Linked DNA regions of Homo sapiens. The protein of the gene in region 1 purifies or fractionates together with the protein of each later gene. This does not show direct contact. Each region holds a gene or a part of one and is shown on either strand. Other genes may lie near its edges.

What was found.
Region 2: the proteins of SERBP1 (region 1) and GSPT1 purify together in Homo sapiens (affinity purification with mass spectrometry; 2 studies listed by BioGRID and IntAct, with this or other methods). This does not show direct contact.
Region 3: the proteins of SERBP1 (region 1) and ZNF593 purify together in Homo sapiens (affinity purification with mass spectrometry; 2 studies listed by BioGRID and IntAct, with this or other methods). This does not show direct contact.
Region 4: the proteins of SERBP1 (region 1) and DNM1L purify together in Homo sapiens (affinity purification with mass spectrometry; 3 studies listed by BioGRID and IntAct, with this or other methods). This does not show direct contact.
Region 5: the proteins of SERBP1 (region 1) and GTPBP10 purify together in Homo sapiens (affinity purification with mass spectrometry; 2 studies listed by BioGRID and IntAct, with this or other methods). This does not show direct contact.
Region 6: the proteins of SERBP1 (region 1) and SDHA purify together in Homo sapiens (affinity purification with mass spectrometry; 2 studies listed by BioGRID). This does not show direct contact.
Region 7: the proteins of SERBP1 (region 1) and STK26 purify together in Homo sapiens (affinity purification with mass spectrometry; 2 studies listed by BioGRID and IntAct, with this or other methods). This does not show direct contact.

The regions. Positions count from the first base shown.
Region 1 is NC_000001.11:67,413,403-67,417,975, reverse strand, and holds part of SERBP1 (SERPINE1 mRNA-binding protein 1), read left to right. Parts: intron 1-2,636; coding exon 2,637-2,810; intron 2,811-4,573. UniProt on the Homo sapiens protein: Ribosome-binding protein that promotes ribosome hibernation, a process during which ribosomes are stabilized in an inactive state and preserved from proteasomal degradation.
Region 2 is NC_000016.10:11,873,695-11,878,267, reverse strand, and holds part of GSPT1 (eukaryotic peptide chain release factor GTP-binding subunit ERF3A), read left to right. Parts: intron 1-687; coding exon 688-861; intron 862-2,092; coding exon 2,093-2,182; intron 2,183-2,338; coding exon 2,339-2,507; intron 2,508-4,573. UniProt on the Homo sapiens protein: GTPase component of the eRF1-eRF3-GTP ternary complex, a ternary complex that mediates translation termination in response to the termination codons UAA, UAG and UGA.
Region 3 is NC_000001.11:26,167,823-26,171,753, reverse strand, and holds ZNF593 (zinc finger protein 593), read right to left. Parts: upstream 1,847-3,931; 5' UTR 1,771-1,846; coding exon 1,571-1,770; exon of another isoform or gene 1,337-1,570; coding exon 1,274-1,336; exon of another isoform or gene 1,180-1,273; coding exon 1,038-1,179; 3' UTR 881-1,037; downstream 1-880. Other genes in the region: transmembrane protein ZNF593OS, read left to right, coding at 93-137, 419-565; uncharacterized protein C1orf232, read left to right, coding at 3,255-3,338. UniProt on the Homo sapiens protein: Involved in pre-60S ribosomal particles maturation by promoting the nuclear export of the 60S ribosome. Negatively modulates the DNA binding activity of Oct-2 and therefore its transcriptional regulatory activity.
Region 4 is NC_000012.12:32,716,638-32,721,210, reverse strand, and holds part of DNM1L (dynamin-1-like protein), read right to left. Parts: intron 2,569-4,573; coding exon 2,448-2,568; intron 548-2,447; coding exon 416-547; intron 1-415. UniProt on the Homo sapiens protein: Functions in mitochondrial and peroxisomal division.
Region 5 is NC_000007.14:90,352,524-90,357,096, forward strand, and holds part of GTPBP10 (GTP-binding protein 10), read left to right. Parts: intron 1-292; coding exon 293-486; intron 487-1,934; coding exon 1,935-2,026; intron 2,027-2,562; coding exon 2,563-2,707; intron 2,708-3,183; exon of another isoform or gene 3,184-4,573. UniProt on the Homo sapiens protein: May be involved in the ribosome maturation process. Complements an ObgE(CgtA) function in E.coli ribosome maturation. Plays a role of GTPase in vitro. When missing, disorganization of the nucleolar architecture is observed.
Region 6 is NC_000005.10:228,320-232,892, forward strand, and holds part of SDHA (succinate dehydrogenase [ubiquinone] flavoprotein subunit, mitochondrial), read left to right. Parts: coding exon 1-14; intron 15-2,556; coding exon 2,557-2,681; intron 2,682-4,573. UniProt on the Homo sapiens protein: Flavoprotein (FP) subunit of succinate dehydrogenase (SDH) that is involved in complex II of the mitochondrial electron transport chain and is responsible for transferring electrons from succinate to ubiquinone (coenzyme Q).
Region 7 is NC_000023.11:132,060,229-132,064,801, forward strand, and holds part of STK26 (serine/threonine-protein kinase 26), read left to right. Parts: intron 1-3,204; coding exon 3,205-3,261; intron 3,262-4,573. UniProt on the Homo sapiens protein: Serine/threonine-protein kinase that acts as a mediator of cell growth. Modulates apoptosis. In association with STK24 negatively regulates Golgi reorientation in polarized cell migration upon RHO activation.

The DNA.
Region 1 (4,573 bases):
AAAACAACACTTTAACTTTCACATGTCTTCATTCTCGTGACAAATGTGAGGTAGTTAAGGGGAAGGAAGAAACTATTTACAAATGGAGAACTGTGTTACCGTGTTATTGACAGAGCTCAGAGTTTCTGTTTTCTGCTCCTCATTGTCTGAGTGCTCTAGAAAAAAGGTCGGACACAGTGGCTTACACCTGTAATCCCAGCACTTCGGGAGGCTGAGGTGGGCAGATTGTTGAGTTAAAAGTTTGAGACCAGCCTGGGTAACATGGCAAAACCCTGTTTCTACAAAAAATATAAAAATTATCTGGATGTGGTTGCGTGCACCTGTGGTCTCAGTTACCTGGGAGGCTGAGGCGGGAGAGGATCACTTGAGCCCAGGAGGCAGAGGTTGCAGTGAGCCAAGATAGCATCACTGCATTCCAACCTAGTTGACAGAGCAAGACTGTTTCAAAAAAAGGAAAAAAGAAAAAAAAAAAGGATCCCCCTGCCCTGACTTTATCCCAGTACAGTTTCTTGGTATCTGCAGGGGATTCGTTCCAGGACCCAGAGATATTAAAATTTTCAGATGCTCATGTCCATTATATAAAATGGCATAGTATCTGCATATAGCCTAAACACGTTTTCCCTATACTTTATTTTTTATTGTTTCTATTTTTTAATTTAAAATATAGAACAATTTACAGTTTTGCGTGTCATCCTTGTGGGGATCATGCTAATAATCTTTGTATTGTTCCACTTTTAGTATATATGCTGCCAAAGTGAGCACTCCCTCATACACTTTATTTTGAGACAAGGTCTTGCTCTGTCATGTAGGCTGGAATGCAGTAGCATGGTCACAGCTTACTGCAGCCTCAACCTCCCCGTGCTCAAGCGATCCTTCTAGCTCAGCCTCCTGAGTAGCTGGAACTACACACCTGTGCCAACTCCTGGACTCAAGCAGCCCTTCTGCCTATGCCTCCCAGAGTGCTGGGATTACAAGTGTCAGCCACCACACCTGGCCTACTTTTTATTGTTATATGGTTGGTTGGTTTTATTTTTTTCTGAATATTTTCGATCTGTGGTTTGCAATAAATTGAAAGCATTGGTTTGAAATAGCAAACATTTAAAAATCACACAATTAGTATATATAATTGATTCTAATTTGCTGGTGTTTTGTGAATTTGTTTTTATGTTTCTAGCCTCCTTTAAAATTTGTATTAGAACATTCTATTGCCTTACAGTGTGTTGGTTTGGTACAAAGGAGTGACATTTAATACTAGTATGAGTTGATGTAAGGGGTGAAAACATGGATAAAAACACAAAAATTTATTTGTACTTTAAAGGCTAGTTATTAACAGCTGTAATATTTTAAGTTGAGTCTAATGGAATTGTAATAGTACAAGTTCTAATGAAAGAACAAAATGTTCTTTATCCCTTTAGAAAAGAAGATTCCTTAGATGTATTTAGGAAAAGAGGAAAAGAAAGCTGTACTTTCAAGTCCTATAAGTACAGTTTTCAACTAGAAGATTAAAACCCATCCCAAGCGTACAAGAAGACATCAGGCATGAAGCAGTATAGAATTGTCTGGCTTTTTGCTTTTTTCCCCCAGACTGGGTCATGTATCTTAAACGCAAATAGAAAAGAGGATCTGGATTTCACAAACATGACTTCATTTTTAAGAAGTTTCTAGCTGGGCATGGTGGCTCATGCCTGTAGTCCCAGCACTTTGGAAGGCCAAGGCCAGCGGATCGCTTGAGCCTAGGAGTTTGAGACCAGCCTGAGCAACACTGTGAAAACCTGTCTATAAAAAATACAAAAAAATTAGCCAGGTGTCATGGCATGTGCCTATAGACCCAGCTACTTGGGAGGCTGAGGTGGGAGGATCGCTTGAGCCTGGGAGGTGGAGGTTGCAATGAACCCAGATCGTGCCACTGCACTCCAGCCTGGGTGACAGAGTGAGACCCTGTCTCAAAAAAAAAAAAAAAAAAAGGTTCCTGTGACACATTTAAGGTGTGGTTTTATTTGTGCATAGCTTTACAAGATTCCCCTCTTTATGTAAAGTGTGTAGTGTTTCACTTGAATTTGTAGCTCTCCAATTTGTGTAGAAAAACGTAGTGGTTGTGTATTAACAGAAAATGCTTCTGAGAAGTTTATATCTAGTAAGGTCTTTACCCTAGTTGTAGTTGGAAGAGTGTAGAACAGAGTTTTTCTTTCTGAGTGTTCTTTTTAACTTCAGTGTTAGTGCTAGTAGTAACCTTATATGTCATCTCTCCAGAGGTCTTCATCAAGGATTCACATGGCAGTCCTGATCTGAAGGGCATATTTAAAATGTACTTGTCCAGATTTCACTGCTAAAGATTATGATTCAGTAGGTCTAGGATGGGCTTCAGCCGTTTGGGTTGATTGTGATAGCATACATGTCTTTAGTTGAGGACTGCTGGTATTACCTGCAATTTTGAGATAGAGAAAAGTGCAGGAAAATCTTCCTCCAGGATCACTAAAGCTGAGCCCTAGCTTGTTACCTGTGGAGGCATTGAGACATTTGTTCACAGAAAGTACAGTTTGGATTTTTGGTTTTTTTTAGAAGAAAGCTCATTATTTAGAAATTTTGCAATGTTACTTTTCTACTAATAACACAATCATCTTCACTTATATTTTTAGGCTCATGCTGAAGATTCGGTTATGGACCATCATTTCCGGAAGCCAGCAAATGATATAACGTCTCAGCTGGAGATCAATTTTGGAGACCTTGGCCGCCCAGGACGTGGCGGCAGGGGAGGACGAGGTGGACGTGGGCGTGGTGGGCGCCCAAACCGTGGCAGCAGGACCGACAAGGTAATTTAAGACTTTCTTTTCCTTTTACATAATTTAAGGACCTCTTATAAGTCACTGGCTGGGTCAGACTTATGTCACTTTTGGGAACATAAGTAGAAGTAGTAGCAGTGTCTTTAAGAAACCGCATGTTAGGTTATATTTATGTTTAAAGCACTTAAATGCCTTTTTGTGTAGTGCTGTTAGTAGTGTTAAGTTACCACCCTTTTGAGTTCTTTCTAGGTGCCGGTCATGGTGCTGGGCTAGGCATTTTATGTACTTAATGTCATTTAATTCTTGTTACTGTGATGACATTCTCATTTTCCAGATGAGAAAATTCTGGTATAGTGAATCAGGTTAACTCTTGGCCTTTGCTAAGGCTTACCTGAAAACCAGTCTGTTCACTTTGATAATTCCTAACTGCTTTTTAGGTCTCCACTTAATAACCATTGTGTTCCTTGTATAATTCCTCTTACGACACTTAGGATTGTTGACACTTTTTTCTTTTACTAGACTCTTCTGTGAGAGCTGGGATTCATTTTTGGCTTACTTTCTATAATCTCTCCAATGCCTTGAACAGTATGTGGCACAAAACAAGTTCTTAGAGAAATATTTTGGTGAATTCCCAAGTAATTGATAGATTTGAACTCAGATCTGATGCTTGGAAACAACCATAATGTCCTCCTAAATTCTCAACACCTTACACACAAATTTGGGGACCCACCTACTTGATTGAGTCTGTTTTTGATGATTACAGGGGTAACTTACCATTGCCAGTGTAATGATACTTTGTTCCTCCCTCTAAGACCAACCTTTTTTTTTTAAGGTGGTGGTTGTGTTGATGGGCTTTTCCCATACTTTCTTTTTTAGTTCTGTTATTTATACTTTAGGCTATAAAGAGCAGTTTGGATTCCTTTTTTCAGACTTTCAACCTTGATGATTATTGCTACTTAGATATTAGTTCCTTAGCATGCTTTCACATTGGTGCCATTCTTATTTAGCAAGTGGAAAAAGTATAAGAATACTGAACAATGCGAATTCACATACATAATTGCTTATGAATCTACTTGTATGGTTTATTGGAAAAAGTAAAACAACTGGGCTGGGCGCACTGCCTCACGCCTGTAATCCCAGTACTTTGGGAGGTCTGGGTGAACAGATCACCTGAGGTTGGGAATTTGAGACCAGCCTGGCCAACGTTGTGAAACCCTGTCTCATTAGCCAGGTGTGGTGGCACATCCCTGTAACCTAGCTACTTGGGAGGCTGAGGCACAAGAATCACCTGAACCCAGGAGGTGGAGGTTGCAGTGAACTGAGATTATGTTACTGCACTCCATCCTGAGCAACAGAGTAAGACTGTCTCCAAAAAAAAAGAGAAAAAGAAAACAACCCATATTATTACTCTGGAATGAAAATAGGCCTTGGTAGAAATTTAGGACAGGGCTCATTGCAAATACTTGTAGTTTTTTTGTGATCCATAATTTTGTCTTGATACATTTTACCTAGAATTTTAACAGTAGGATTTTTTTTTTTTTTTTTTTGAGATGGAGTCTCACTCTGTTTCCCAGGCTGGAGTGCAGTGGCACAGTCTCGGCTCACTGCAACCCTTGCCTCCCAGGTTCAAGCGATTCTCCTGCCTCAGCCTCTTGAGTAGTGGGATCACAGGTGCCTGCCACCACACCCAGCTAATTGTTTATATTTTTAGTACAGACAGGATTTCACCATGTTGGCCAGGCTGGTCTCAAACTCCTGACCTCAGGTGATCCACCCACCTTGGCCTCCCAAAG
Region 2 (4,573 bases), on another chromosome or scaffold:
GGTGGGTGCCTGTAATCCCAGCTACTTGGGAGGCTGAGGCAGGAGAATGGCTTGAACCCAGGAGGCAGAGGTTGCAGTGAGCCAAGATCGCACCACTGCACTCCAGCCTGGGCAACAAGAGCAAAACTCTGTCTCAAAATAAAAAAATAACAATGCTATGCAGCCATCATCACTATCTAATTCCAGACCATTTCATTACACCAAAAGGAAATGATGTATTCATTAAATAGTTGATAGACTTTTAAAGCTTAGTTCAATAATTTTTAAGTAGTGCATAATTCCGATATTTGGAGATTGATAGGTAATAGAAGACAGGTTTATTAAATCCTTCATAGAATTCCATAATAATAAAAATTATATCCATAAAACTGAAATCCAAATATTAAATTGTGTTTTCGATTTTGAAAAGGTAAAAAAAGGCAAATGCTAGTGTATACAGTGTTCTAGTTGGAAATGATTAGAATGTGATATTTAAAAGGTGACACGTTAATACTTTAATTGGCAGTTATACTTCTAGGATATGATTTTTGCTGATCATATCTAGGCTAAGATTTTATGTCATACAAACATAAGTGTTTACAGTCAAATCTTGCAACTCTTTATTGAGCAGACAGACATTCAGATCATTTTATGTTGCGTAATGCAGTGAATGTGTCAGAAAACCTCCAGTCTTGTTTTCTTTTAAAGCACAACGTGGAAGTTCTTGGAATACTTTCCGATGATGTAGAGACTGATACCGTAGCCCCAGGTGAAAACCTCAAAATCAGACTGAAAGGAATTGAAGAAGAGGAGATTCTTCCAGGGTTTATACTTTGTGATCCTAATAATCTTTGTCATTCTGGACGCACATTTGATGCCCAGGTAAACAAATTATTGTTGTTGTCATAGTGGGTTTTAATGTCTAAATGAAATTAGAATATCAGTGCCTTTTGTCCTGATTATTTGTGACATGCCAGTTAACCCATCTTAGTGTAGAGAAGGGGAATGGAAATATTATAAGCCACTTATATATCATAACCACAATAGGCACCTCATACAAGGTCTTCAAGCTGGTACAAGTGCTTACTGGATAAGGAGTATTCTTTGTAAGTTCCTTTTTATGTTTGATCTCCTGATGATACATTCTACAGTATCTAATATTCACTTTGACCAGAGCACAGTTACTGTGGAAGTCATGGTTTATGTGCTCATTGACAGCACATAGCTTTCCAGACAAGAAATCACACAGGTTTCCCTGTTATTAACAATCTAACCTCCCTGGGAGAATGACAGAGTAAGTGACTGGTGTGAATAACAGAATTTTTTAAAGTTCTTTTCTAAGGTATGACAACTAATCAAGTTAGATTTTGATGCCAGATGTAAGGTTGTTTACTTTACTGGACCTTGGATATTGAGAAATGGATAAAGCTGGATAAGTTTACATCTAGGTAGCTTCTGAGCGGTAAAAATTAGCTTAGTTCCTTGGGGAATATAAGGAAAGTCTTCCCAGATAAGAAAGTTGGCCTGCTGTCTTTTGTTTTGTTTGGAGATGGGGTCTTGCTCTGTCACCCAGGCTGGAGTGCAGTGGCGCGATCTTGGCTCACTGCAACCTCCACCTCCGGGATTCAAGCGATTGTCCTGCCTCAGCCTCCTGAGTAGCTGGGATTTAGGCGCCCACCACCACGCCTGGCTGATTGTTTTGTATTTTTAGTAGAGACAGGGTTTCACCATGTTGTCCAGGCTGGTCCTGAACTCCTGGCCTCAGGTGATCCCCCCGGCCCCCCTGCCGCCTCGGCCTCCCAAAGTGCTGAGATTACAGGCGTGAACCACTGCGCCCAGCCAGCCTGCCGTATTTTGAAAGTTGACCAGGGACTTGCCAAGAAGATAAATACAGGATAAGATACTGAAATTCATGCTTTGAGTTCAAGCAGCCTGACCCATCCTGTGAACAAAATTAGTAAGACAAACCTATCACCTCTAACACAAAAATCACTTAAGTTGATGTCCTAGTGAGATGGTAACACTAATTCTTGGGATTTATATGGCGCTTGAGAACATTGAATTCTTATTTACCCTAAGGCTAAAGATAAGAATGTGTGTGTTTGTTTGACAGATAGTGATTATAGAGCACAAATCCATCATCTGCCCAGGCTATAATGCGGTGCTGCATATTCATACCTGTATTGAGGAGGTGGAAATAACAGTGAGTTTAAGATAATTGGTTTATTTCTGTTTTAATACTGTTTTATCTTCATAATTTCTAATCAGCAACAGTGATGCACTTTTATTTCTACACCTGTTCTTAAAGATTATTTTATTTGGCATTATTCTGATTTTCTCATACTCTTTTCTTGGTTAGGCCTTAATCTGCTTGGTAGACAAAAAATCAGGAGAAAAAAGTAAGACCCGACCCCGTTTTGTCAAACAAGATCAAGTATGCATTGCTCGCTTAAGGACAGCAGGAACCATCTGCCTTGAGACCTTTAAAGACTTCCCTCAGATGGGTCGTTTCACCTTAAGAGATGAGGGTAAGAGCTTTTAAACTGACGTCTAGTAGTATATCCAGGATACCTAGCTTTGGTCATCTTCATCATCTCAGTACAGTACACATTGCAACAGGTTCACAGAAAACTTCGATTCACATTCTTATTCGTATGAGTGTTTTATGAGTTGAATGTATTGAACAGAATTGACCACGTGCTTTAGTAGTAATGCCAAATCTAGTAATGCTCTACGTGAAGAATCTTAATTTTGATGTTTTGTGAGTAGTGGATTTGGAGGGCTATTTTGTTTACTAAGATATTTCTATGATGTAATCCTTTGTAATATGTCTAGCGATTAAAAGGAACATAGAGATTGATTTTTTTTTTTACACCTAATTTTTCAGAGGTCTAATCTTTGTGACCTTTTGTGTGCATCCATTTCTGCCTACCTCTGGGTGACGCAGAACAACTAACATTCCCATCTTGGGGTCATGAAGTTCTTTGGCATAAAAACAAAATGATTGTTATGAAACGTTTCCTTATGAGCTTTTAATATTCCTGTCCTTTTCCTTTCCCTTTCCCTTTCCCTTTCCTCTTCCCTTTCCTTTCCTTTTTTTGAGATGGAGTCTCGATCTGTCACCCAGGCTGGAGTGCAGTGGCACCATCTTGGCTCACTGCAAGCTCCACCTCCCAGGTTCACGCCATTCTCCTGCCTCAGCCTCCCGAGTAGCTGGGACTATAGGTGCTGCCACCATGCCTGGCTAATTTTTTGTATTTTTGTAGAGACGGGGTTTCACCACGTTAGCCAGGATGGTCTTGATCTCCTGACCTCGTGATCCGCCCGCCTTGGCCTCCCAAAGTGCTGGGATTACAGGCGTGAGCCACCGTGCCCGGCCCAGCTGTTAATATTTCTAACTTAGATAACCATTTTAAGACTATAGAAGACTTTACATAAAACTTTATAGTTCCATTGAAATACAGAATAGTCATTTCACATGTTCATTCCAATTCCATTTAGCAAAAACTACTTTGTATCTACAAAGTGTCAGGAACTGTGCTAAGCCCTGGTGATGAATACAGTTCCTGAACTTTACATTGGATGAAATTGTATAAAGACAGTGTTTATTTTACTTTAAAGGCCCAGAACTCTTCTGGTTGATAGTAAAACTGGTTATTGGGTTTATCTTATTAATATAACAAAATGATAGTTTTAGTTTACCACTCAGAACCTGATAAAATCAGGAAGACAGAAGAAAAGCAATTAATGTAGCAGGAATTCTTAACCCTAGAATTATTTTTTCCTAAAAGCTAACTTGGCTTTAAAAAAAAAAAAAAAAAAAAAAAAAAAAAAGCTAACTTGGCTTTTAGGTTTTCCACAAGACCCAATGGGTTTTGTATCCTTTCAGTCCACAGGATTACTACCAGAAGGACGTGTTCACTGCACTGTAGTCAGTGGTGATTGCTGTGCCTTTTCACAGTTACTTAAGGATAGGTTTTGGGATTTTTTTTTTTAGCAGCTTTATTGAGATACAATTTCCATAATATGAAATTGACCTGTTTTAAGTATGTAATTCAATGAATTTTAGTATGTTTACAGAATTGTACAACCATCACCATATACTAATATTAGAACATTTAGAACACCTAAAAAGAAACCTTACACCTGTTCATAATCACCCCTTATTCCCACCTCCACCCCAGGCAACCATTTTTCAATTTGTCTTTTATAGACACTCCATAAATAGAATTATAAATTATGTGGTCCTTTGTCTAGTTTATTTTACTTAGTGTGATTTTGAGGTTCAACCATGTAACATGTTATTTATTCCTTTGTATCACTGAATAGTACTCCACTGGGTGGATATTCCACAAATACGGATATTCCCTTTTCTTATTTTTAATCCAAAGAGGTTTTTTGGCCCAGTGTGGTGGCTCACCCCTGTAATCCCAGCACTTTGGGAGGCCGAGGCAGGCGGATCACCTGAGGCCAAGAGTTCAAGACCAGCCTGGCCAACATGGTGAAACCCTGCCTCTACTAAAAATATAAAAATTAGAATGGGCATGGTGGCAAGCACCTATACTCCCAGCTACTCAGGAGGCTGAGGCAGGAG
Region 3 (3,931 bases), about 41 Mb from region 1:
CCCTAGTTTCCACTTCTTGGTGTCATGAAGACCACTGGTCTTCACGTCCGCTCCCACCCTACAGGCCGCCAGGGAGACCAGTGCCGCCCACCATGCGATTTCGACGCTTGACCCCTGGTTACTTCCGGGTGTTACAGGTAAGTACCCCTGATCAACGGTTTCTGGCACGACTGACCCCTTCCTCCCCCTACCATAGCTGGGTTGACACCCCCAACAGCCAGGCTGTCACGTTCCCTGCCGCCTGAGCAGGCAGGCCCAGATGGGCAGTGAGGCGAAAGGGATTGGGGTGGAATCTCCCTGGGGCAGGACCGGCGTCCATGTCTCCTTCCCCTAGCTACATCTACTCAGCCCTTTCCCACTCCCCACCTTCCTGGCAGTCTCAACTGACCCCTGAGGCACACCCTCTGTGCACCTCCAGATGCAGGTAGCTGGTGAGCTGAAGGCAGAGCCCCGGAGTCTGCTGGCAGGAGTTGTGGCTACAGTGCTAGCTGTCCTCGGCCTGGGTGGCTCCTGCTATGCCGTCTGGAAGATGGTGGGGCAGCGGCGGGTGCCACGGGCCCCGTAACGAAGAAGAGAGACTCTCACTTGGATGCTGGGGGTAGGTGACTCGGGAGGGGGGTGCAATCTCAGAAGCCTTCTTTTCTGGGGATCAGTCTCTGTCAGAAGCAGGACAGAGTAATCTGATCCCACTCCCGCCACCCCACACTGCATCAGGCCTCCATCTGGGTGCTCCAGTTCAGATGCTAGGACCTCAGAGGGAAGGCAGAGATAGACCAAGTGGGGAGTAGACACCCTAGGCCTGGTGTACAGAAAGTAGTAGAGAAGCCCTTCCAGGGCAGGAGTTTGAGACAGCGGCCTGGAAGTTAGAGTTGGAGGCAAGTTCTCTTTGTCCAGTTCCTTTATTTGGGGCAGGGCACCAAGAAGAGGCCCTCCGCTCCCCAAACCCAGAGGCAAAAGGGGTTGGCACGCTCCCTCCCAGCCTAGTCCTTGCGTCACTGTCCATGGGCAATTCCTCTGCCCTGCATCTTCAGGCCATGTCAGGTAGAGGTATCCATCTCAGGGACCTCAGTGGACACTTCCGTGGGCACTGCCAGCCGCCTGGGGGGCACATAGGATCCCATACCCGCTGCCCTCTCCGCCTCTTCCTGACTGTAGGGCTCGACGCTCAGCTGCTTCAGCCTGGGAGAAAGAAAAACAGGAGTTGGGAGCTGACCAGGTGAGAGCCCTATCTGCTGAGCACCCATCCATCAATCCTCTCCTTACTCCTTCATACCTTTTCTTGTGGTCTTTGGATCGGAAGTGGGTCTTCAGGTTGGTGGAATCGATGAAGTACCTCCTGTAGGAATGGAAGTGAGAAGGAGAGTGAGGAGGTGATAGTCTCCCAAGTGCACCTATCTCCCTAGCCCTAGCTTGTCCCTGACGCCAGGATCCGGGTCTGAGAAACGGGAGGCGGGCGGACCCACGGGTCCCAAGAGAGAAGACTCTGCGCTGCCTGGGGCTTCAACTTCACATCTCCCGGCCGGTACCGCGGACCCTCCTCCGCCCCAGGCCGGGCTCGTCCGGGACTCACGCGCAGGCCAGACAGCGGTGCAGACCGCCCCCTGGCAGGTCGGGGTCGAACTCGGCGTTTGGGTCGGGCTGGGGTCGTGCGGATCCCTGAGGCCGCAGCTCGCGGTGAATCTCATCCAAGTCCGGCCGCCGCCGCTTCGCCTTCATCTGCCGGGCTAGAGAGTGCGCTCGGTGCGCGCCTGTCCGGCGGGAGCGACCCATGGCCAGAAACAGCCCGGCCGGCCAAGGGGCCAGGAGCAGGGCAGGGAGCACACGTGTGAGCACTTCCGGGCCGATCAGCTACGTCAGGCCACGCCGGGGGGCTAGGCAGGCTCGGCCGGACCGCCTCTGATGACGTCACTCTCGGCCAGCGGCTCGAGCGCCGCCAGGCGGCCGTCGACGTCAGTGACCGAGCTCAGGACGGGCTCCCAGAAGTGTGCCCACTGAAGGGCATGGCCCCGCGGGCCCTCGCTGGGGAGGCGCGGGGTGGTGCGTGCGCCTGGGGGTTTCGGGGCCGTCTTGCTGCCCTGCTCTTCCTGGCCTGGTCCAACCAGTATCAGTGCCAACCTGTACTCCTGTCATCCCTTCCTGTTTCCCAGACCTTGGACTCCGCGGTGGGGGTGGGATGCTTTATCTCTGGAAAGCACTGATAAATGTCTGTGTCATGAATAAATTAGTAAATGACTGAGAGTGAATAAGTTTGGAATCCCAGCCCCACCAGGGCTTCCCGAGATAATCTCCAGTCCCTGAAAAAGCCCTCACTTCTCCGGGCTCCCGTTATTCCCTTGAGTCTCCATCCTCTCTCTGACCCCAACCAAATCCGTGAAGGGTGTTCCTCCCCAGAGAGTGCAGTCCTCAGGCATCCAGACTCCAGAGGGATCAGTTCCTCTCACAAGTACTCATAGAAGGACCTCTCCATCTTTGCCTCCTTTCTCTAAGCCCTGGGCTCCCAGAGGTGGGCTGGCAGCAAAGGCCTAGGTGTTGCATGCTCAGAGTGGCTAGAGGGCCTTTCCCCATTCACAGGAGCCTGGTGCCTCCCAGGCTGGCCAGAGCCAACTCAGCTGGAAGGGGCCAGAGGAGCTTAGCAATAATTCAGGGGCTCCAGCTCTTTGGAGTCTGTTGCCAGGAAACAAGGAGACAGGCACGTGTATCCCTGGGGAGAGGAATCAGTTTCCAGCCCAGACAAAGGAGTGAAATGTAAGCCCAAGGTGCCCACTGGGGGCCTGCGGACCTTCCTGCTCCAGTTCATTGAGGCTAAGTAGGGACACAGGGTGGAGCCCTGCTGAGGACACAACTAGTATGACTACAGTCACAGGGGCTCCAGTGTGGGTCCCAGACCTCAGGATTTTGTGAATGGAAGAAGATTTTCCTGGAGGCATGCTAAGAGATGAACAACTCAAGTACTCCTAGGCCCAGGAAGAAAGCCTCTCTAGAGACAAATGACTTCATTATTCTTGGCCAATATGGGTCAAGACAAGGGGCTAAGGTGGCAGAAGCTTGTTCCATCCCCCACTCCCCGACTCCTTTGGATCAGGTTCACCTCCTGGGCACTGTGCCAGCTGGGGAGGCTGGTGCATCTTTAATGAAGTCACTGGATCCCTCGGACAGGCTCTTGGCCTCACCAAGTTCCTAGAGCCAGACTCACTGGTATCCACTGAGCCACCACCTTCCTGTGCTTGCGTGCCAGGCCCCTTCCCCCTGCAGCCATGAACCAGGCCTTCTGGAAAACCTACAAGTCCAAAGTGCTACAGACCCTGAGTGGGGAATCTGAAGAAGACCTGGCAGAGGAGGTGGGTGCCATCCATGCATGGTGGGTGGAGCATGTGCAGAGGGGCAGCAGGAATGAGCAGTATGAAGTGGGGCACAGGATAGGCTTGGAGGTGGGGGGGCCACATTTGTGCAGATGCCACATTCAGGGATGGTAAAAACCATGGTGCAGCATCAGAAAGCCAGGACATTCAAGAAAACTGAGGAAGAAAAGACTTAGGGACCATGGGAGGAGTGGCCACTGTCTCCAAAGATCTCGAGGCTGCCACATGGAAGAGATTCTTCTAGGACCAGTGGGCAGTAGGCACACGGGCACACTTAGCTGGACACAACTTTCTAATGGGAGCAGAAGTAGGAGTGATGTAGTGAGCCCCATGTTACTAGAGGTAGGGGGAGTGGCGCCTGTACTAGAAAGGTCACTGCAGCAGCATCAGATCAAAGCCATACTTAGACCATGCTTTGTTCTGACATTACAAAAAACAAGCAAACAAACAACAACAACAAAAAACAGGCTGGGCCGGGCACGGTGGCTCATGCCTGTAATCCTAGCACTTTGGGAGGCCGAGGTGGGTGGATTGCCTGAGCTCAGGAGTTCAAGACCAGCCTGGGCAACACG
Region 4 (4,573 bases), on another chromosome or scaffold:
AGAAATAAAAGACATTCTATTTCTTTGTTTTTCCATCTCCCTTTCCTGGTAAATAAAACACATTCTAAGGTAAGAATAGATAATGTGAAAATTACAAATTTTAATCAGTTCCTGAAATGCAAAGTGGAAATGAAGTCATCTCTAGTTCTAGCCACAAAACTAAATTAACTGTCAAAATTTTCGTAATTAAAACATTTTAAAATCACTTGTACATTCATTCTAGACTACGTGATGATGTAATGTCAACCACCCCAATAAAAACAGAGACATCTACTCTTCAGGAACCTACTATATAAGAAACCATAAGTGAAGCTGTTAGGAACAGTATGAAAATGTAAGGAACTGAAAATGAACCCTCTCAGACACCAATTGGTAAAAACAAACACATCTCATTTCCAAAAGGTAAAAAAATTACCTGTTTAGAGTCCTAGCAAGATACTTTGTTCCATTTCTATTGGCCAGAGATGGATATTTCTTTTGAAGAAAAGCATACTCATCACGGATTGAATCAGTTACACTCTTCTTGTTGTTAATATCTAGCTGGCTCCTGAGGTTGAAAAAATAACGAAACTATTCAGCTTAACTGTTGTCCTCTTCCTACCTTAGATGATGACAGCACCAGGCATTGTTCTCTAATACCTGACAGGGACTGTTTTATTTAATTCTCACAATAATTTTATGTGGCAGGTATTATTACCCCATTGTATAGCAAGGAACTGAGGCTCACAAAAACTAACTTACCCCAGGTCACACACTAACTGGCATAGCCAAGACTTGAACTAAGTGAATTGTAAGTAACTAGTGCCTAAATAGAGTAGGCCTCATTATTACCATTAACTATAGACAAAAACAATAAGTAACAGGTATAGACAGGTATAAAAATATAAGAGTATCTTAGTCAACTGTATATTTTATCCATGGACAGGGAACTAATTTCTCCCAAAAATAATTAAGTTAACTTGAAGAACAATCATCTACAAACAACGAACAGTGTTAGGCCACCTCCTTACCTGAAAAAGGAGACAGCTGGAATTGGGAGTGGGGATGGGAGAATGACAGTGGGGATGGGAGAATGACAGTAGGGTTGGAATGGAAGGACATTAAAATAGAAGCAGACAACTGGAATGGATCTTATGTATCAGGCAGTAAAAACATTTTCATTTTCTAAAGGCTTGAGACCCAAAGACATTAGGTGTCATTTAAACCTACGTTGTATCTAGTTTATGTAAGAACTAGGACTATAACTCAGATTTCATGATAATTTCAGTGTTTCCTACCATATGAAGGCTTTGGACTAAAAGAGATATTCATCCGAATCCAGCTCTTTCACTACCCACGTGACTTTTGGTTAAATGTATAACCTGAGGTTTCTGATTATAAAATAGACATCAACACCTACCTCAGGGGATGCTGTGAGGATTCCAAGAGATACCATTTGCAAATTGCTCACAGTAGAGTGTCTAAAACGTAATTAGACACTCAATAATAATTTCCTTTTCCCGATTTTTAATACCAACTATTTATAATTAGGATACCTTTAATAAAATTTCTCCAAGTCACATCCTGGCAATTACACAGAATCACTAATGCTAGGGATTAAACCAATCTATTAAAATCTTGTCACCTTTAATTAGACACTCAATACTAGTTTCCTTTTCCCAGTTTTTAATACCAACTATTTATAAATTAGGATACCTTTAATACAATTTCTCCAAGTCACATCCTGGCAATTACACAGAAGCATCACTAATGCCAGGGATTAAAACCAATCTATTAAAATCCTGCCACCTTAAACTCTTTCTCGATTGGGTGCACATTAGATAATTTTTCCCTTACCCAGTACCTCCTCATACATAGCTTAACATGATAGGCAAGAATTCTTAAAGCCTGGCTATTACAACATTTCTTCCATTTTGTGGTATTGCTTACTTTAGAAACATTTTCCAGTAAAAATGTCTATGGGGCAGGCACAGTGGCTCATGCCTGTAATCCCAGCACCTGGGAAACCAAGGTTGGAGGATTGCTTGAGCCCAGGAAGTCGAGACAAGCCTGGGCAACATGGCAAGACCTTGTCACTACAAAAAAATTTAAAATTAGCCAGGTGTGGTGATACACACCTATAGTCTCAGCTACTTGAAAGGCTGAAGTGAAAGGATCACTTGAGCCCAGAGGTTGATGCTACAATGAGCCACAATCACGCCACTGCATTCCAGCCTAGGCAACAGAGAGAGACCCTATTTCAAAAAAAAAAAAAAATTCTCTCTCTTTTCTCCCTTTAGGGCAACGGATTCTTTAGCAATACCAAGATCATAATAAAAGGGAGAAAAAATATAGTACAGCATCACATTTCAAACAGATTTTAGAAATTCAGACTTGCTCTGAAGTGAGAATGCTTATCCCATTCTAAGAATGCTTATCCCAATTCTTATCCCATTCTAACTGCTAACCTGTTAACTACTCCAATTATTCCAAGTTTGACTGGAATAACCCTTCCCATCAATACATCCATGGCATCAGTACCCGCATCCATGAGATCAAGTTTAGTGATTACAGCTAGGGTTCTGCGACCTGGTAAATGCAAAAAGAAAAAAGGGCAAAGAAAAGAAAGAAAATGATCCATTAAATACAACTATTTAGTGTTAATAAAGGAAAACCCTCATCTACAATCCCACTTAGTATTACCTCTGTCATCATTTTGGTAATGCCTTACTTACCAGTGCTTTTTTAAAAATAATGTTAAACATTGTGTATAATTTTTTAAAACATTTTTGCCGGGCACGGTGGCTCACACCTGTAATTCTAGCAGTTTGGAAGGCCAAGGCGGGTGGATCACCTGAGATCAGGAGTTTGAGACCAGCCTGACTAACATGGTAAAACCCCATCTCTACTAAAAATACAAAAATTAGCCAGGCACAGTGGCAGACGCCTGTAATCCCAGCTGCTCGGGAGGCTGAAGCAGGAGAATTGCTTGAACCCGAGAGGCAGAGGTTGCAGTGAGCTGAGATCGTGCCATTGCACTTCGGCCTGGGTGACAGAGCAGGACTCCATCTAAAATATATATATATACTATACATATAAAATATATATACTATATTATATATAAAATATATATAGTATATATATAAAATATGTATAGTATATATATAAAATATGTATAGTATATATAGTATGTATAGTATATATTTATAATATATATACTATATATATTATATATACTATACATACTATATATACTATATATAATATATATACTATATATACTATATTTTATATATATATAAAATATATACTATATTTTATATATATACTATATATAGTATATATAAATATATATAGTATATACTATATATAGTATATTTATAAAATATATATAGTATATACTATATATATTTTATAGTATATATATTTCAGTTACAAATATATATATCTACCTAGGTATATATATTTTTTATATATATATCTACCTAGGTATATGTATTTTTTATATATATATCTACCTAGGTATATGTATTTTTTATATATATATCTACCTAGGTATATGTATTTTTTATATATATATCTACCTAGGTATATGTATTTTTTATATATATATCTACCTAGGTATATGTATTTTTTATATATATATCTACCTAGGTATATATATTTGTAACTGAAAAATGCCATAGGTAAAATTGTACACTATGCAGAGCAGGACTCCGTCTAAAATATATATATATACTATATATATATAATATATATACTATATATTTAAAATATATATAGTATATATTTAAAATATATATAGTATATATTTAAAATATATATTATATATTATATATACTATATATTATATATAGTATATATATTATATATACTATATATAATATATAGTATATATAAAATATATAGTGTATATATAATATATAGTATATATAAAATATATAGTGTATATATAATATATAGTATATATATACTATATATACTATATATAAAATATATATAATATATACTATATATTTTATAGTATATATAAATATATATAGTATATACTATATATATTTTATAGTATATATATTTCAGTTACAAATATATATACATAGGTATATATATAAAATATATATAAATATATAAAATATATATATAAAATATATATATATACCTATGTATATATATTTGTAACTGAAAAATACCATAGGTAAAATTGTACACTATGCAGAGCAGTTGGAACTCTCACACGTTGCTGGTGGGAGTGGTGTAGTCATTTTGGGAAACAGTCTGGCAGTTTCTTATAAAGTTAAATTAGCAGTCCCATTCCTAGGTGTTTAACCATGTTAAGTGAGAACCAGTGTTCATATAAAAAACTATATGCAAATATCTACAGCAGCTTTATTCATAATTTTCAAAAACTAGAAACAACTCACATATTTCTCAGATGGGTAGTGAAATACCTATGGTATTTTCAGTTACTATATATATATATATATATATACTATATATAGTGTATATATACTCTATATATAGTATATATATAAAATAGATTTTTTTCACATGTAATTTTTTGTTGACTCTTAGGGCTATTTTGTAAGCATTTCAA
Region 5 (4,573 bases), on another chromosome or scaffold:
ACCCAGGGGAGAAAGTCTAGAATGAAAACAGGGCCAAGTCAGAAACCCTCAGGATAGGTGGGACAATAATTGATAACTGAAAAAACTAAAAGGGACTTAAGAGAGATAATCAAATGGGAAAGGGGGTCAGATCGGAGATGTGGAGGTGAGCTAAGAAAATGTTATAGAATTGGCATGTGAAAAGCTATTAACGACTTTTTTAGAAGAAGTTTTAGTGGAAGAAAGAACTAGAAAAAGGTTCTAAGGTGATACACTTTTGGTATACAAATATTCTTTCTCTTTTTTTTTTAAGTATGGAAATTTCATCGATAAGCTAAGACTCTTCACCAGGGGAGGATCCGGTGGAATGGGTTATCCTCGTTTAGGTGGAGAAGGTGGAAAAGGTGGTGATGTCTGGGTTGTAGCCCAGAACAGAATGACTTTAAAACAACTTAAAGACAGGTATCCTCGGAAACGGTTTGTGGCTGGAGTAGGAGCAAACAGCAAGTAAGTAATTACTGAATGACTTAAATTTTAGAAAATCAAACCCTTCTGGAAATTTTTTTTTTAGTTACAAAATAAAAACTTAATTGTTAATTTGAAGTAAATTATTTCCTGTATTTATAACCAAGCAAAAGCCTAAAATGTCTCAACTCATAAAAGACTGATACTAAAGAATATTTCAGAGTTTTAAAACTTTCTGTCCGTTTCTTTTCCCAATGTCTATCTGTATTCTTTTTGCACTTCCCCTGTAGAAACCGATAATTATCTGAATTCCCACTGTTTTCTTCTAAAATTATCTTTGACAACCTTTTAGAAAACTTTCAGTCTTAACCATGCTACTCTACCCCACCACCATTAGAAGGCAAGATAACCACTATTAACCTTTTCTTGACTTTTCTAAGACTTTTCTGTGTGTTTACACAAATGCAATTATGTGCCTAAAAGTTTAGAATACAAAAATGAGAGTACAGTATTTTACAATCTGCTATTTTTACTTTTTTTCACATGTCAAAATTATTCAGAATACCTGCATAATAAATAACTATTTTGTCATTTGTCTATTTAGGTTATTGTTGATTTTTTTTTCCGATTATAACCACAGTGCAGCATTCTGTGTAGATACTATTTTACATGTTTGTTCAATTATTATTTTGATAAATTCCCAGAAGTAGAATTACTAAAACATTTGTACTAATTTTTTCTTTTATGAGCAGTTTAAGAGTAGCCAGATTTGCCTTCTATAATGTAAGTACTCTCATTTGAGGTTAGTTTTTTAAAAGCTTTGCTATTTGGTGGATTTTCTTTTTTTTTTTATAGATTCATTTTTTCTTTTTTTTTTGAGACAGAGTCTCATTCTGTTGCCTAGGTTGAGTGTAGTGGGCACTATCATAGCTCACTGCAGCCTCTACCTTTCAGGCTGAAGTGATCCTCCCACCTCTGCCTCCCAAGTAGCTGAGACTACGGGTATGTGCCACCATGCCCAGCTAATTTTTAAATTTTTCTTTTTTTGTAGAAATGGGGTCGTGCTATGGTGTTCAGGCTTGTCTTGAACTCCTGGACTCAAGAGATCCTCCTGCCTCCGCCTCCCAAAGTGCTGAGATTACAGGCGTGAGCCACCACGCCTGGCTTTTTCTACCCTATTTGTATTGTAGCAATAATCTCTTCATTTCATGGTTGCAATATTTTAGTTTCGGGTTAAAATGACCTTTGGTGGTTAGCTTAGTAACTTAAATCATTACTTAATGCCATTTTAGTGGGATATAATAGTCTAAAATGCAAAGAAATAATTAGGGATAATTTTAGTTTTTTTAAACCCCGTGTTTGACCATTTAACATCTGCGTTAACCAGAGAATTGATTGCTACTCTTCTTTGTAAACCATTTTGTGTGTATGTGTGTGTGTGTATATATACACACACACATACATACATATATATACTTTTTTTTTGGTAGAATTAGTGCACTGAAAGGCTCCAAAGGAAAAGACTGTGAAATCCCTGTGCCTGTGGGTATTTCAGTAACTGATGAAAATGGTAAAATTATAGGTGAGTGTACTATAACTCCAAAAGTTGTAAAAATGTGCACGTTTTCTAAAATGAAACAATGGAATAGCTTCTCTTGAGTTTCAGAAGATTTTTTAACTAACAATTTTAGCTACTATTCTATAAGAGAGCATTTTTAAAACTTATAAAAGTTAAATTGACTGCTAGATTTAAGATTGTTTTAAAGATGTTACAGTTCTTACTTGGTCTTAAAATATATAACTAGGCTCTTTTCAATTGTTTACTGAAGTGTTTTTCTGGGGTCAAACTTTTAATAGATTTGTAAATTGGAATTTCCTGGACTGTTTTTCTGAAAGAACAATATTACATTAATGATTCTACTTATTAATTATAGATTTGTAATTGAGAATTTCCTGGCATGTATTTTTGAAAGTAAAATATTACATTAATGATTTCACTTACTAATCTATAGATTTGTAATTTTGCATTTCTTTGCCTGTATTTCTGAAAGAAATATATTGCATTAGTGATTTCACTTATTAATCTTTGCTGTAAGTATTTCTCTCCCTCTTTTTAAGGAGAACTCAATAAAGAAAATGACAGAATTTTGGTAGCTCAAGGAGGTCTTGGTGGTAAATTACTTACAAATTTCTTACCATTGAAAGGCCAGAAACGAATAATTCACCTTGATCTAAAACTTATAGCTGATGTAGGCCTAGTAGGGTAAGTATCGTTCATATTTTTATTATTATACTTTCAGAGAGAGAGTTCTTGAATAGAAAATAAATGTAAATGGTAATTTGGGGCCATAATTATTTCTAATTTATGGAATTTGTGTGTTGTGTATGTACTTGGAAAATATGCTGCTAAATATTATTTTCAAATTGCCAACACAGAGTTTCATAGTTATTGCTTATTTATAAAATTAAGACCAGAGCAATTGAATAGATCAGTGGGAATGTTAGAGAATGCATAAAGAAAGAAAAATCAATCAAATGCAATATTACAAGATGGTTAAATAATGTTACCAGATATTAATAATAAATCCAAACAAACCGTATTATTATTAAAAATATATAGAAGGAAATAAACAGGGAAAAATGGTTGACATAACTCTTTTGGGTCTTAATAGAGACATTAAAGTATCGTTAATCAAATGGCTAAAGACCAGTACAGACAATCTCAATCCTCAGACTTACGCACTGTTGCCGCCAAATTGAATCCTGCTATGACTGTATATCCTTCTTGCCTCTGCTTAGGATCTATCTAGTCTCAGCAATGTAGGCCTCACAAGAGTGTCCTCTTCCACCAGCCTCCATTCTTTCATTAAATAATGCTGTTTAGCTGTGGGGTTTGCAGTGCAGCTGCCCACTGGAAGGGGATAGATAGTAAGATACAGAATACATAAAGGAAGAGAAAACTTCAATTTGCATTTGCTCTCTCTCCCCCATCCCCCCTCCCTCCTATCCTCTCCCTCTGGCCCTATCACAGTATTACACAGTTATTCAGATGGAAAGCTTAAGGACAAGATAAGGAAAACTGCCTTATTACTGTCCTACTCCAAATTCCTAGTTCTATTTTTTGCTTCCCCATAGCTTCTTTCTAAGTTCTTTTCATGTTCCTCTTCAGTCATCTCACTGCTTCTTTACCAGACTCTTAAGTCTGTATCCCTCGTCTTTTGCCCTGCCTGACCAGCCACTAGAGCTTACCACCATTGGTTTAGGGTTCACAGAGGCCCCATTCCTGCTAAAATTATAACAAGGAAAGATGTGATCCTGGCTTGCCATTTACATTTATTTTTTTCAATAAAGCACAGTTACAAGAGTTATTAGATGTAAGTTCTATAATCCTCTATATTTTTAGGAACATTATGGGCTTAATAGGGTCTTATGGACAAGACTGGCAGTCCAGCCAATCACAGTTGCATTTTGCATAAACATGTGTTTCAAGTTCTGAAGAGACAACTTTACAGTCTAAGAGGAGCCTAGCACGGCTTAGTCATAAAAGTGGAGTGGCATGGAGGACTCAGGTTAGACTATTTAGGTTAGGATCTCAAATCCTCTGGAGGCTGGCCAGCTGGTCTTGGGTAAATTACACAGCCTCTCTAAGCCTTTGTTTTCTCTTCTTTTTTTCTTTTCTTTTCTCTCATTCTTCCTTCACTATAGTTTTTTGCTTTTCACCACGTCATTTGTTTTCTCATCTTTAATAGTGTATGGAGATAAGTCTTTCCTTAAAATGTTGGTGGGTAAGATAATGCATTTACAGCAGAATACATGCTTTGCATTTTTGTACGTTCAATGAATTGTAGCTGCTATCTTCATCATCATTATATTGCCAACTTACTGGAAAACTGCATATAATGAAATACTAGGCTTTTCAGAAGTAGGTTTGAAATTTGTCTGTAATTAAAGCATCAAGATTCTTAAGCATATCAAACAAGAATGGGGGAAAAAGATTTTTAAGTGGAATGTTTAACATATTTTCTAGTGTTTTTAAATTAGGCAACTATTCTTGAAGAGTTACTACTATGAATACTAGCATAAGTAGATATCCTTTTAGCTGGTTTTGGAAATGGACTGAATCACAGAA
Region 6 (4,573 bases), on another chromosome or scaffold:
GTTGTTGCCACAGGGTAGGAATCTCATTTCTACTTTATTTTGTTTATAAAAATGAATAAATTTCATTTAGAGTTTCTTTATTTTAATGAAAATAGAGGCATTGTAGAATAACGGTTTAGACACAGGCCTTGATATAACCATGTGAGGGTGATGGCCTTTCCCAGCCGTGGTTCCTCACCTGTAAAGGGTGAGGACAGGAGCACCTGCCTCAGGGTGAGAAAGCATGGTCCTCAGTAGATGGTAGTGGTTGCCCTCAGGTTCACAGCTTACCTCTCCCAATTTAGATGAGGGAACTGTGGCCCAAAGAGTCAACATGGGGTTTTCTGGCAAAATCTCTCTTGTTTTAGTGGGTACTGTATTGATACTGATTCCTCGGGTGGGTAAGTCCTTCTTCTCCACATGATGAAAATAAGTAACTTTAATTTTATACACTGTCAGTTACTTTAACCATTTTAAAAGTTAAAAAGTGTCAGTACAGCCAAACAAAAAATCAGCAAAACTACAGGTTGGGAAGAAATATTTTCCAAACCATATGTGTAATAATATCTTACTATCTAAAATAGCAAAAAAAAAACCCTACTAAAAACAACCTACTAAACCCTACTAAAAAACAACCCTACTAAAAATGGGCAAAGGACTTGAATAGATATTTTTCTAGAGAAGACATACAAATGGCCAATTGATGTATGAAAAAATGCTCAACGTCACTAAGCACCAGAGAAATGCAAATTAAAACCCCAATGAGATATCATCTCATCTCGCTCCAGTTAGAATGACTGTTACCAAGAGGACAAAAGAGCAAGTGTTGGTGAGGATGTGGAGAAAAGGGAACCCTGTGTGCTGTTGGTGGGAATGTAAATTAGTACAACTATTACGGAAAACTCTGGAGGTTCCTCAAAATTCATAGGACTACTATGTGCTCCAGCAACCCCATTTCTGGGTGTATATCCAAAGGGCATGAAATCAGAAGCTCAAAGAGACACCTGGACCCTATGTTCATTGCAGCATTATTCACAATACCCGAGATATGGAAACAACCTAAATATGTGTTGGTGTTTAATGACAATGTGGTGTGTATACACAACTGAATATTATTCGGCTATGAAAATGAAGGAAATCCTGTCATGTGTGACAACGTGGATGAACCCAAAGTCATTATGTTAAGTGAAACGAGCCAGGCACAGAAAGACAGATACTGCATGTCACTCATGTGGAATCTAAAACAGTCACAACTCACAGAAACAGAGTAGGACAGTGGTTGCCAGGGGCTGGGGGAATGCAGACTGTGGCGATGCTGATTAAAGGTGTAACTTCCCGTTACAAGGTGAAGTTCTGAAGGTCTAATATACAACATGGTGGCTATAGTTAACATTATACAGCATGGTGGCCAGAGTTAACATTATACAGCATGGTGGCTATAGTTAACATTATACAGCATGGTGGTTAGAGTTAACATTATACAGCATGGTGGCTAGAGTTAACATTATACAGCATGGTGGCTAGAGTTAACATTATACAGCATGCTGGCTATCGTTAACATTATACAGCATGGTGGCCAGAGTTAACATTATACAGCATGGTGGCCAGAGTTAACATTATACAGCACGGTGGCTAGAGTTAATATACAGCATGGTGGCTATCGTTAATATTATACAGCATGGTGGCTAGAGTTAACATTATACAGCATGGTGGCTAGAGTTAATATTATACAGCATGGTGGCTATCGTTAATATTATAACTTGAAATTTGCGAAGATAGTAGACGTTAGGCGTCTGTATCTCCAAAAAAAGGATAATTGTATGAGGTGATAGATGTGTATTAACTTGATTGTGTCATCATTTCACAAAATAAATCATCACGCTGTACACCATAAATATATAGTTTTTTTTTTAAATTCATCAATCATACCTCAGTAAATCTGGGGGAGAAAAAAATCCATAAAAATTTTAAAATTTTCATTATAAAAGTAGTATATGCTTATTGGGGAAACCTTTTGAACAGCACAAAGCTAAAATACAAATAGGGCCAGGTGTGCAGTGGCTCACGCCTGTAATCCCGGCACTTTGGGAGGCCAAAGTGGGAGGATCACTTGAGGTCAGGAGTTCGAGACCAGCCTGGCCAACATGGTGAAACCCCATCTCTACTAAAAATACAAAAATTAACTGGGCGTGGTGGTGCACACTGTAATCCCAGCTACTCGGGAGGCTGAGGCGGAAGAATCACTTGAACCTGGGAGCCGGAGGTTGCTGTGAGCCGAGATCGCACCACTCTACTCCAGCCTGGTCAACAGAGTTAGATCCTATCTCAAAATAAATAAATAAAATACAAATGGAAGTCCTTTCTTTGATCCCAGGCTTCTATCCTACCTGTGCAGGGTAGCAGCACCAGTGGCGCGGCCCCTAGTGATATGTGTGGGGTGTGCGTGAGTAGGGGGTTGTGTGTGCACAGCACTGAGAAGACGGTGCTGGGGGCTGCCGTGTCCATTCTGTGATCTCACCAGATAGGAGGTCCAGATGTGGGCCGCTGTGTGCAGTCACTGCTCTCTATTGTTTCCAGAGGCTACGGGCGCACCTACTTCAGCTGCACGTCTGCCCACACCAGCACTGGCGACGGCACGGCCATGATCACCAGGGCAGGCCTTCCTTGCCAGGACCTAGAGTTTGTTCAGTTCCACCCTACAGGTAGGGCAGGACGCCTTGCCCGGCAGGTGTTTGGCTTGTGTGTGTCTTGTAAGCATGTGATGCCTACTCATTGCTCTTCCATAGTTTTATGTAATAACATGGTTTTGAAGATCAGCTTCCTCAGCTCTCAGGTCCTAACTTCAACGTCATTTACCTAAGGAGACTTTTCCCACACTCCCCTTCCCCTAAGGCAGTTTGGGCCACCGTCTTATGTATTTCTCAAGAGCGCTAAACCCTGCCTTGGTGATACTTAAGCCAGCAGTAAAGCAGGGATTGAGGCCGAGCACAGTGGCTCACTCCTGTAGTCCCAGCACTTTAGGAGGCCAAGGCGGGCGGATCACCTGAGGTCAGGAGTTCGAGACCAGCCTGACCAACATGGTGACACCTCGTCTCTACTAAAAATACAAAAATCAGCTGGGCGTGATGGCGTGTACCTGTAATCCCAGGTACTTGGGAGGCTGAGGTGGGAGGAATGCTTGAACCTGGGAGGCAGAGGTTGCAGTGAGCCGAGATCGCGCCACTGCACTCCAGCCTGGGCAACAGAGTAAGACTCCGTCTCAAAAAAAAAAAAAAAAAAAGTAAAGCAGGGATTGTTCAGTGTCCCTCTTCGCAACGAGGTCGTCAGCTCCTCGGGCAGGCAGGTCTTCTCGTTAGCTGTGGTGCTCCATGCCCAGCACATGGTAGGGTCTCCACCGGGGTTTACTGAGTGAACATTCTGAGAGCTGGGAGAATGCCATGGAACCGAGAAGCAGCACAGGCAGACTTCAGCTTTGTAGGAGAACACGGAGCTTCTGTGACAATGGGATGTAAAGTTAGGACGCAGCCGTGACAGAACCCCATGTGACATTGGGCGCTGGGCTCAGCCCACGTGACCACTGAGAGAGCTTGTCGTGGGGAAGATGAGCTCGTCTTGGGGACGTCTGACGGTTGAGGTTACGAATGTGCAATTCGGAGACATTAACTCAGAAATGACAGTTGAAGTCTTGAGTTTGGAGGAGGTTCTTCAGAATGAGTCAGAGACAGACACACACCTGCCTCTTGTTTGAGGTGACTTGTCCTATACTTTTCTGGGTTGCTTTTCTGACCTGTGGACGATGGAGACCTCTGAAGTGGTGCCAAAGAACCAGACCTGTGTCTTCTCTTTCTCTGTCAGTGTCAGCTTTCTGATCCCTGGAAGGGATGAAAATAAGAAATGAATTTGTTGTAGTGTTTTTTTTTTATTTGTTTCGAGATGGGGTCTTGCTCTGTTGCTCAGGCTGGAGTGCAGTGGAGCAATCTTGACTCACTGCAGCCTTTGTCTCCCAGGCTCAAACGATCCTTCCACCTCAGCCTCCCAAACAGCTGGGACTACAGGCATGTGTTACCATGCCCAGCTAATTTTCGAGGGTTTTTTCGTTTTTGGTAGAGACGGGATGTCACCGTTTTGCCCAGGCTGGTCTCAAACTCCAGGGCTTAGGCCATCCTCCTGCCTCGGCCCCTCAGGGTCCTGGGATTATAGCCATGAGCCACTGCACCCGGCCTGTTGTATTTTTTATTACTGTTTTTAATGAATAAAATGTCACTGAGCCCCTGAATTCCCTCTGTAATTTGCTTAGAGCTCCACTGCTCATGCTTTGTCTTCAGTATGTGAGAAGTAACCACAGAAAAAAGAGCATTGAAACTTAGAAAATCAAAAGACAGACAAGAATCACATTCGTTTTTTAAAAGCAAGATTGCCCTTTTTGTATACTAATAAAAATTGTAGCTTTCGAAATACATTTAGTTTAGGGTTTTTGATCTCCTTTGTTAAAATTCGAGAGCTTGGCATGCCCTGTTTCTCATCGCACTGAGGAGTCACAGAGCCGCTGTTTGGAGCACAGACCGCCGGACTACCCAGGTTTGGGTTTGAGCTC
Region 7 (4,573 bases), on another chromosome or scaffold:
TTCATATTAATAGCCTGCTTATCTGTGAGTACATCAAGTGCAATAACCCTCAAACTAGGGAGGTAGCATTTGAACTAAGTCTTGAGAATGATTTTGATAGGGGTTGGAAGGTGCAAGTGGGGTAGGGACACAGCATTCCAAGCTGGAGGAAAATGACTCAGAAGTGGTAAATTTTCTAGCCATATTCTTGGCAAGATGATCTCTACTGTCACTTCCAGTTTTATAAAGTCTTATGTGCTGTATGTTTTTTTTAATCAGGCAAAATATACTTAACACTAAATTTGCCATTTTAAGTGTACAGCTCTCTGGCATTGGCTACATTCACATTGATTTTGTGTTTTTTTTGTTTGTTTGTTTTTTGGGTGGTTTTTTTTTTGTTTTGTTTTTTTGTTTTGCTTTTTTTTTGTGACAGGGTCTCACTCTGTCTCCCGAGCTGGAGTACAGTGGCGCAGTCTTGGCCCACTGCAGCCTCCACCTCCCAGGTTCAATTGATCCTCCCACCTCAGCCTCCCGAGTAGCTGGGACTACAGGCATATGCCACCACACCTGGCTACTTTTTTGCACTTTTTGTAGAGATGAGGACTCCCTATGTTGCCTAGACTGCTCTCAGACTCCTGGACTCAAGCGATCCTCCCACCTCGGCCTCCCAAAATACCAGGATTACAGGCGTGTTGTGCAGCCCTCACCACCACTGATTTCCAGAACAAATAAGGATTCCTTATTTTCAGATCTAGAAATTGAGTAGTTGTAATTTTAATGCTTAATGGTATATACTACTTTGTAAAGTCACATTTCAAGCTTTCTATGAACACGTTTTACTGACAGACAGTTGGCAAGTTTCTGTTTTGAATTAGTACAAACAAAAAGGCACACATTGTTTTTAACTTGGAAAACAGGTGCTTTCATTCATGCAGAACTGCAAAATAGGCAGGCATGTTTTATAAGATCTTTTTCTTTTAAATGTCAGGTGAATGGGAAGCTCTCTGAATTCATATGATAGAGTATAGTACTTGTTAGAAACAAACTTGTGGCAGAAGAAACAATTTTTAACCTATCCACCATTGTAAGAACCACTTTTTTCTTCTCTTGAAAAAAGTATAAAGGTACATCAGAGTCACAATTCTCAGGTTGCGAGTGCCTAGGTTCTATACACAAATACAAGTTATATGAACCTTTCCTGGAACTCCTCTTCCCTCACCAGTATTGTGGGAATTTATTTCCTCTATTTCCTAATGTAGACTTCACTGCTAACCAAGACTCTCAGCTTTCTGCTCACAGTGCCTGCTGGCCATCTATGTCAGGACAGAGTGGATGTCAAGATTAGTGGAGGAAGTGGTAGGGGAATATTGTTCCTCCCTTTCTCTTACAAATTCTACATAGTGTCAGCATATGGAAAGGAGAATCATTTTGTCTTAATTAACTGAGCCCTCCCTTCATGATCGCTAACCCTAGGCCACATCCCATTCCCCACACTACAATGTCAGTTCCACTCTGATTCTTCAACCCTCTCCCATCCCCTAAGCACTCATCATCATGTCACTGGGTTCCATTCTCTGCCTTGATAAAGTCACATCCTCATGGAGATGCCTGGAAATTTTAAATTGGACTCCTGAATACCTCCCAGGGATTTTTGAGTTTGAGGGCTACTGGCAGTAGCTTGAGAATCTTCACCCCGCAGCTGGGGTTGTAAAGGTGAGAAATGTGTTTCTGGCATCCCAAGTTGAGGCACCATGCTGAATATATTTTCCTACTTGAAATATTGTTAAGATATAAATAGTAGTGAGTTTCTCTGGTACTTTTTATGCTATACTACGAATGAATACATTTGTGTGAAATTGTCTTTTGGGAGGACTACCCCAGGAACTTAGACATTATTTTTATGGGAAAATGCTTGCTTTTAAAATTCTGAACATCTTACTTAAAAACCAACTTTTGGAACACAGTCCAGTCACTACTTGGCTGCTGCCAGTATAGTAAAGCCAACCATTCTACTTCCAGTCAGCTCTTTGGTCCCACAAAAATTCAGAGAATACCACTCATGAAATGGTATGGAGAGAGAGGTGTCCCTTGTATTTAAGCTATAGCTAAAATAAAAAGGGTTTAATGGTTTATTCCAGTGTTTAACTGATGGTACTGAATGGTATGTGTGTGTGTACACCTGTTTTAGAATTTGTATACATATATTCCTCCCAGGAGCCCCATTTCCTCTTGTTCAGCTCACAGGGAAGTTAATTCCACCTGGAGAAAGCACAGATTTTTAAAGCTACACTCTCCCTTTTTCTTATCCATTTACATCAGAGGTAAAATGAACAATATTCTTTCTAGGTTCCGTGTGTGCCAAAAATGCCCATTAACCGTAGCTGATAAAAGTTTGAAGTACATCAAAACAAATGAAAGCCAACAACTGAAATAAGGCAAAATATCCATTGTCCTCAAACTCAAACCCAAAATTTCTACAAGCCCTCATTTACCTCCTCATTCTTTAATGTAACTATCTTTTCTTTCCAATATCATTCAAGATAATTATTTAAAGCTTTGTTTTTTATAAAAATTACTAATAGTTCAACAATAACAAACAGTACTTTTATTTGTTTAGCTATATCATAGGCAAAAAGGTATGCGGGTAGTCTAAGCTCAGAATTTTAATTTGGAATGTTCTATGGAAAAAATATATTCGGGGTTCCCAAGCAACCATTTTTAAACCTACATTTTAGAATCTGTTCTTTATTTTTTTAATTTTTAATTTTTGTGGCTACAAAGAAGGTGTAAATATTTATGGGGGTACATGAGCTATTTTAATAAAGGCATATAATGTATAATGATCACATCAGGGTACATTTACTCTCTGTGTTACAAACAGTCCGGTAATACTTTTCTACTTATTTTTAAAAGTATAATTAAATTATTATTGACTATAGTCACCCTGTTGTGCTATCAAATACTAGATCTTACTCATTTTCTCTAACTACTTTTTGTACCCATTAACCATCACCAACTCCCCCTCCCTACTATCCTTCCCAGCATCTGGTAACCATCCTTCTATTCTCTATCTCCAAGGGTTCAATTGTTTTAATTTTTAGCTCCCACAAATAAATGAGAACATGCAAATAGAATCTGTGCTTTAGTATGTGAGATTTAACATTTTTGCTAGTATGTTATTTTGGCTCAGGTTTGTAATTATTAAATTGTTTCATGGCTTTACAGGGGTCTAAATTATGGATAATAATGGAATACCTGGGCGGTGGTTCAGCACTGGATCTTGTAAGTATTTTAAAATAGTTACACACAGATGCAAATGTGTGCATATGCACATACCTTAATTTTTTAAATTGAAGATTAATGGCTTTTGAGCACGCTAAGTGGTTGCTTTAGTTAATATGTTCAAATTAAATTCTTTTTTCATGACCTCTACCTTATGTAGGTACAGATGTATTGTACGTTTGAACATGTTGCTGGCATTCTAAGACTATATAAGAAATGCAAATAGCTTAATAAAATAAAGTCTCCCAAATTAGAAGGGGATGTGTGTATCCATTGCTGTCAAAGTTTGACTTTTGCAAGCTTATCCCTGAAAAAACTGAGTTTTCTTAGATTTTTAAAAAATATGTAATTGAGATAACTGTCACTAAAAGTGTTTTTTATGAACTGAATGTTTGTGTCCCCCCAAAATTCATATGTGGAAATCCTAACCCCCAATGTGATGGTATTAGGCGGTGGGGACCTTGGGACCTAATTAAGTCATGAAGGTGAGTTCTCATGAATGAGATTCGCACCCTTACAAAAGAGGCCCCAGAGAGCTCTCTGACTTTCTTTCCACCACGAGAGGGTGCAGTGAGAAGAAGGCCTTCTGGAAACCAGGAAGAGTGCCTTTACCAGACTCGAATCTGCCAGCCCCTTGATCTTGGACTTCTTTCCCAGTCTCCAGAACTGTGAGAAATATTGTTTAAGCCACCCAGTCTGTGGTATTCTGCTATAGCACCTGAATTGACTAAGATAGTGGTACTAGGGTTCTAAACAAGGTTGGCCTACAGATCCAGTTCTTCACAGAGTTCTCTCTGCCCCTCTATAGGTTATTTGGAAATGTGATGGCATTTGGGTTGTCACAATGACTTAGAAGTGCTCCTGCCATTTTTGTGGTCATGGATCAGAATGCTAAAATCCTGCAGTGTGCAGGAAAATTCAACCCAATGAAGATGCATTTACACACAGAATGCCTTTGAGAAACACTGGTTGTTCCCCAATTCAGTGTGATCCTATCAATGTTGAGTTTCTTTCCCTTCCTTAAAAATCTTTATTAATATGATACTATGTTTTAAAATTCAGTATGACTTATGAGAGGCAACTTAGTGTAGTAGAATGACCACTGGGCTGGCCTGGGGTGTTTGAGGTTATAGGTCTGGCTCTGTGCCTGTGAACCAGACACAAACTTCCTGGACGTAGGTGTTCTATAAAACAAAGAAGTTGCACTAAGTTATTTCTAAGTTCCCTTCCATCTTTAATATTATATTTTTTTTATTTGCGTGTTTCTGCCTTAGAAATTATAGAGTATGCTGTTTCTAAGAAAGTGTTTTGA